Regions from separate parts of the Homo sapiens genome. Here region 2 is linked to region 1. Evidence: fine-mapped expression QTL. Tissue or cell type: whole blood. Region 1 holds a variant in brackets; the other region holds the start of a gene. All regions are shown on one strand. Distances are between the middles of the regions.

Region 1 (2,684 bases):
CATGAGTGTGAATGTGAGTGTCTATTGGTGTGGGGGGAGTATGCAGAGGTGGCAGTGTGAGTACTTGTGTACAATTAGTGTGTTGTTACCTCACAACAATAAGTTTAACCCTAAAGCAAGAAAAGACATGTGTGAGAAGCTCACAGGAAAACACTAGCAAATGGCATGGAGCAGCAGCTAACCCAGACCACAGGGCAGGAGCAGCCAGGGCTCCTCCCAGGAAGGCCAGGCAGGTGCAGAAGGTGAAATAGCTGTGAAATTTACCACATCAACAAAACGGGAAACAGGAACCAAGCGGTTATCTCAGAGGATGAAGAACAAGAAGTGGGGGCGTCAACATGCCACAGCACCCTGGGAGCAGAAGGAAACCTCCATAGCCCGACAAAGGTGTCCACACAAACACCCTCGGCTCACCTCAGTCCCACAAGATCAATCCCAGCATCTGTCCCTACTGTCTGGAATTAAGGGTGACCTCATGCCATCTGGGTACCCAGCATGGGTGGTGACAGCCTTGTGTGGTCCTCTGTGATGACCCCTGTCTGTCCTGATCTCCACCTGTGCGCACTGGGACTCCGCATGGCCGGCATTTATGCAAATGCGGCTGCTGGAGAGGAAGAGAGCCCTGGGTGTCCTCCCTCCATGGGGACAGCACGAGACTGGGTGCTGCTGGCCCAGAGCAGCAGCTGGGTTCTGGCCTCCCAGTTCCTCACTGCAGGGTGCCCTGGCAGTAGGCTGTGAGGACAGACACACCGTCCATGTCAGCTCTGCTCTCCATGGGCACACGACCAGGAGCAAATTGTCCAATGTCAGCGAGCTCCAGAGGTGCCTCCCATGAACAGAAAGGATGCTGTCAGGCCTGTCGTGAGTCCCAGGGCACTGAGCTGTGCAGGGACTGGCACAGGGCTGGGAGCTGGTAGGTCCCAGAAACAGGAGCTGTGCTGACACTTCCATGATTGGTCCTGGGCTCTGACCCCACTCACCTCTCCCCGATGCAGAGCTGAGGATGGGGGTGGAGTAGAGAGAGCTCCCCTCCCACTTGGGGTCTCTTTCTGCTGCTCCTGGTTTAAAGCTGCTCAGTCGTGCAGCCAGTGTGCTAGCTGTGCTCCTCTGACGATGTCCCCTGGACATGCACAGGCTGTGGCGTCTGAGCAGTCCTGTCAACCCCAGGTGAGGA[T/A]GTGAGTCGTCACTCTTCCCTGGTGGCAGCTGAGTTGAGGTGACAGGTGCCCTCTGCCCACCAGCTCAGCCCTCTGCCTCTGCTCACGTGGCCCGGCAGTCACAGCCCTGACCTGTCAGCTGTTGGCTGACTTGGGCAAAGCTGCCCCACATGGAGGGTGACAGTCACAGCAGGGAAAGGCCAAGGCAGGAACCTGGAACCTAAATGCAACAGAATAAGCCCTCTCAGCAGGCTGCCACCAAGAAACCAGGAGGGCTCCAGGGAGCCCAGGAAGGAGGCCAGGGAGGGAGGCACGCAGCCCAGACTCCCCCATTCAGTCCTAGGCCTCATATGCAGCCTGGCAGAGGCCTCTGCTGGGCTCACTGCTCCAGGCCAGTCCTGAGCCCATCCCCCACACATGGCTGGAGGGTTTTGGCAGGAGCCTCCCTTCTAAGCCTGGCAGGTGTCTGAGGCTCTTAGCAGAACCCCCAGGCCCTCCAGGAGCCACTTCCTGTTCTGGGCGCCCTGTGCAGAGGTGGGACCAGGTGGGGCGTAGGCACCCTGCAAGCCCTGCCTCACCTTGAAGGGCCGAGCCCACCTGTCCTTCACAGCCCTGTTCATAGGGCACCTCATCCTGGAAGCCTTCCCTGATGACCAGCCCCTCTGACTCCCTGCAGCCCAAGGGCTTGGTCTGTCCCTCTCATCAGTCACTTGTCACCCAGGATGTATCATGACTTCTGATTGTCTATGTCTAAGCATAATTTTCTTCTTTAGTTATTTGGTTTTCTTCCATCCTTTATTGTTGAAATTTTCAAACCTATAGGTGAGTGGAAAGGATTGTGCAATGAACACAAACACACCTATATCCACCACTGGGATTTTACAGTGAATGTTTGCCCATGCTCCTTTATCTCTCTCTCTCTCTCTCTTTTCATCCATCCACCTTGCAAAAAAGGGAAAAAAAAATGTTTGCAATACGTAGTCCTAACACAGCCTAGAATGTAATTTGCAACCACCCCGATTATGAAGCTTTGGGGCAGCCCTCAGTCCTGCTCAGGGTGGCCGAGTTGGGCTGACCAAGGGGTGCAGGCCACAGGCCCAGTTGCTCCCTCCCGGGCACACTGAGCCCAGTGTCCGGCTGGCCAGGGCCCTTTGGACACCTGAGCGAGGAAGATGTTGAGAGTGTTGCCTGATAGCATCAGACTTGGAAGCAGCTGCTGTTGGCCTTAGTGGTGGGAGAGCACCCGATGCTTGCCCTGAGTGGGGCCAGGTCTGGTTGCTCAGCACAGGATACCAAGCTGGCCTTTCCTGCTACCGCTTTTTTTTTTTGAAACAGAGTCTCATTCTGTCACCCTGTCTAAAGTCCAGTGGCATGATCTCGGCTCACTGCATCCTCTGCCTCCCAGGTTCAAGCAATTCTCCCACCTCAGCCTCCCAGGTAGCTGAAATTATAGGTGCCTGCCACCATGCCCACCCAGCTAATTTTTTTGTATTTTCAGTAGAGACGAGGTTTCACTAAGTTGACAAAGCT
Region 2 (2,684 bases), 61 kb after region 1:
AGTCACTCTTGGATGAGATCCATAAAACCCTGCTATGATCACCTCCTTTGCTGCGGAATGTGGGGAAGCAGTTGGCAACTGAGTATGGAGGACCTCTGTCAAAACTGAGACAGAAAGAAGTGCTATTTAACATCTAGTCACAAGTAAATAATGTGGGTTATAATCTGGGCTGTAGGCTGGACGTGGTGGCTCATGCTTGTAATCCTAGATCAGGTGGGAGGATCGCTTGTGCCCAGGACTTTGAGACCAGTCTGGGTAACACAGCAAGACCCTGTCTCTACAAAAAAATTTAAAAACCGGGCATCATGGCGCATGTCTGTAATCCCAGCTACTCAGCAGGTTGAGGCAGGAGAATCGCTTGAACACAGGAGGCAGAGGTTACAGCAAGCCGAGATTGCGCCACTGCGCCTGAGCGACAGAGTCAGACCCTGTCTCAAAGAAAAAAGAAAAGAAAAAAAGAATCTGGGTTCTGCCATTTATTTATTTACTCAATTTTTTTTTTTTTTTTTTTTGAGACGGAGTCTTGCTCTGTCGCCCGGGCTGGAGTGCAGTGGAGCGATCTCGGCTCACTGCAACCTCTGCCTCCCAGGTTCAGGCAGTTCTGCCTCAGCCTCCCGAATAGCTGAGGCTATACGCGCGAGCCACCACGCCTGGCTAATTTTTTTGTATTTTTAGTAGAGAAGGAGTTTCACCGTGTTAGCCAGGATGCTCTCCATCTTCCGACCTCGTGATTCGCCCGCCTCGGCCCCCAACGTGCTGGGATTACAGGCGTGAGCCACTGCTCCCGGCCTATTAACTCAATCCTTAGAAAAACAAATGTGGCAAAGGTGGAATCATACAACATATGGCCTTTTGTGTCTTACGATATTCATTTTTGCATCTGAATGTTCAAACTAAATAATATCTACCTTGTGAGGCCATCTGAATCACTTAGGATGGTCCTTGGCACCAAATTTGCCTTCAAAAAAGCATTTGCTTCATTTAATTTCGATTTATTCACGAAGGACTAAAGGACACTGCAAGGGCGGGGAGGGAGTGTGCGCCTGCGCTCTGCGCCTCCTAGAGGGCAGTCAAGGGCTTCTGGCTGACCCGAGCGGAGATCTCGCGAGACTGTCAGACGTATGGCGAGAGGTGTGGGAGGAAGATTGTGTTGTCGCGAGAACTCTGCCTTTGGGCCGTAGGTTAGTGTGGGGCCGTGTCTCAGTCCACCCAAGGTCTCCTCGGATCGCCTGGAGAGGCACTCGGACCTGGTAAGAACGCTGTGGGCCGGGTGGAGGCTCGATGACCGCTGGCCCGCTGGGCCCGGGCTTGTCCGCCCCTTCCCGACCCGACCGACACCGGGACCGGTCTGCCTTCTCCTTCCCTTCCCTCCCCTCCACACGCCAGGCCCGGGCACCTCTTCCTGCCTGCCCGCCGGGCCCGGGCCTGTCTTCTCCCCTTCCGGCCACACGCCGGGCCCGGGCCTACGTTCTCGCCTTCCCGCCACACGCCGGGCCCGGGCTTGTCTTTTCCTCCCCGACCCTCCTCGTGCCCGGCCGTGGGCCTGTCCTTTCCTCCCCGACCCTCCTCACACCCGGCTCGGACACCTCCTGCTCCCCGCCGGCCTTCCCCTCTCTTTAGGTGTGACAGCTCCAAGTTTCCTGTTTCTCTCGCCTCTTGCTTGGATGTGGGGCGAGGCGAGGTCTGTTTTGCCGGACGGGCACAGAACATAATCCATTTCTAGCTTGTCAGGTGGAAATGCAAAGAAGATATTGGGTTTTTTTGGCCCTCTGTGTGCCAAACACATACTGTCACATTTAATTCTCCCAATAATCCCGAAAAGTAGCTTGATTATCTCTGTTTTACAGCTGAGAAGAGTAAGGCTTGCTCATTCATTGGTTCATTCCACCAGCAATCATTTATTTGGTGCCTGTATGTTCAGGATGTTGAGGATAGCAATGAAAAAAATGGACACCTAATTCTCATGGAACTAAATTCTTGTTGTGGGGAAAACAATAATCATAATCTTACGTGGCACGGGATTTAACATGGAATGATGCCATCAAGAATGGCAGAAGTAGAATGACAGAAGTCAGAGTGCTGAATTTATCTGACCCCAAAGGCAGAGCTTTTTTACTTTTAACTGTGCCTTTTTGTGTCACTTTCTAATCAGGGTCGGGTTCACCACAGTAATTGCCTTTTGGATGGACTTAGCTTTCCACCACGCACTTGGTAATTTGGAACTAAGTTTATAGAGACTCTTGAGTTACTTATTGGAATGAGGATGGCACAGGAAGTCATAGTTGGCCCATTTTTATACCGAGATCCTAGTGTGACATTTCCAAACTTTAAAGTACTTGAGACCGTTTGAGAAAGACTTACCCTAAGGATGCAGTGGCTTAGGCAATTTACTTGGTTTTCTCATTTGAAGATTTGCTAGCTTGCAGATTTGTTCAGATAAGTAAATGAGATTATGTATGTAAAGTCCAGCACAATAACGTTCCTTTCATTTTCTCCTTTCCTGCCTTCCAGGGAGCCTTTGTCCTTGGGTCTCTAAGGAAAATCCTACTCTTTGAAAGTTTTGTGGTAGTTTTTATCTAAATAAATCTCTACAATTACATTATTACCTTTGTGCAAACAGGCATTTCGGAAATGGAAAAACATGTTGAGCTATGGAAGGGGAGGAAGATGTCCTTCTCAAAGGG

What was found. PIP is the estimated chance that this variant, and not a neighbour inherited with it, causes the effect.
Region 2: NCOA4 starts here. The variant in region 1 is fine-mapped to the expression of NCOA4 in whole blood (TOPMed, PIP above 0.99).

What each region holds. Positions count from the first base shown.
Region 1 is chr10:46,090,239-46,092,922 of GRCh38, reverse strand. No RefSeq gene overlaps it. Among named protein-coding and RNA genes, the nearest start is that of MSMB, 45 kb to the right of the region's middle. RefSeq lists a silencer at 1,090-1,384. The variant T/A (reference allele first, on the strand shown) is at 1,175.
Region 2 is chr10:46,029,092-46,031,775 of GRCh38, reverse strand. NCOA4 (nuclear receptor coactivator 4) reads left to right here and starts at 1,153. Exons shown (of 10, transcript NM_001145263.2): 1 at 1,153-1,250. It overlaps LOC105378287 (a long non-coding RNA gene), which reads right to left and starts at 1,001. Exons shown (of 3, transcript XR_945923.4): 1 at 909-1,001. RefSeq lists an enhancer at 1,108-1,177 and a silencer at 1,538-1,627.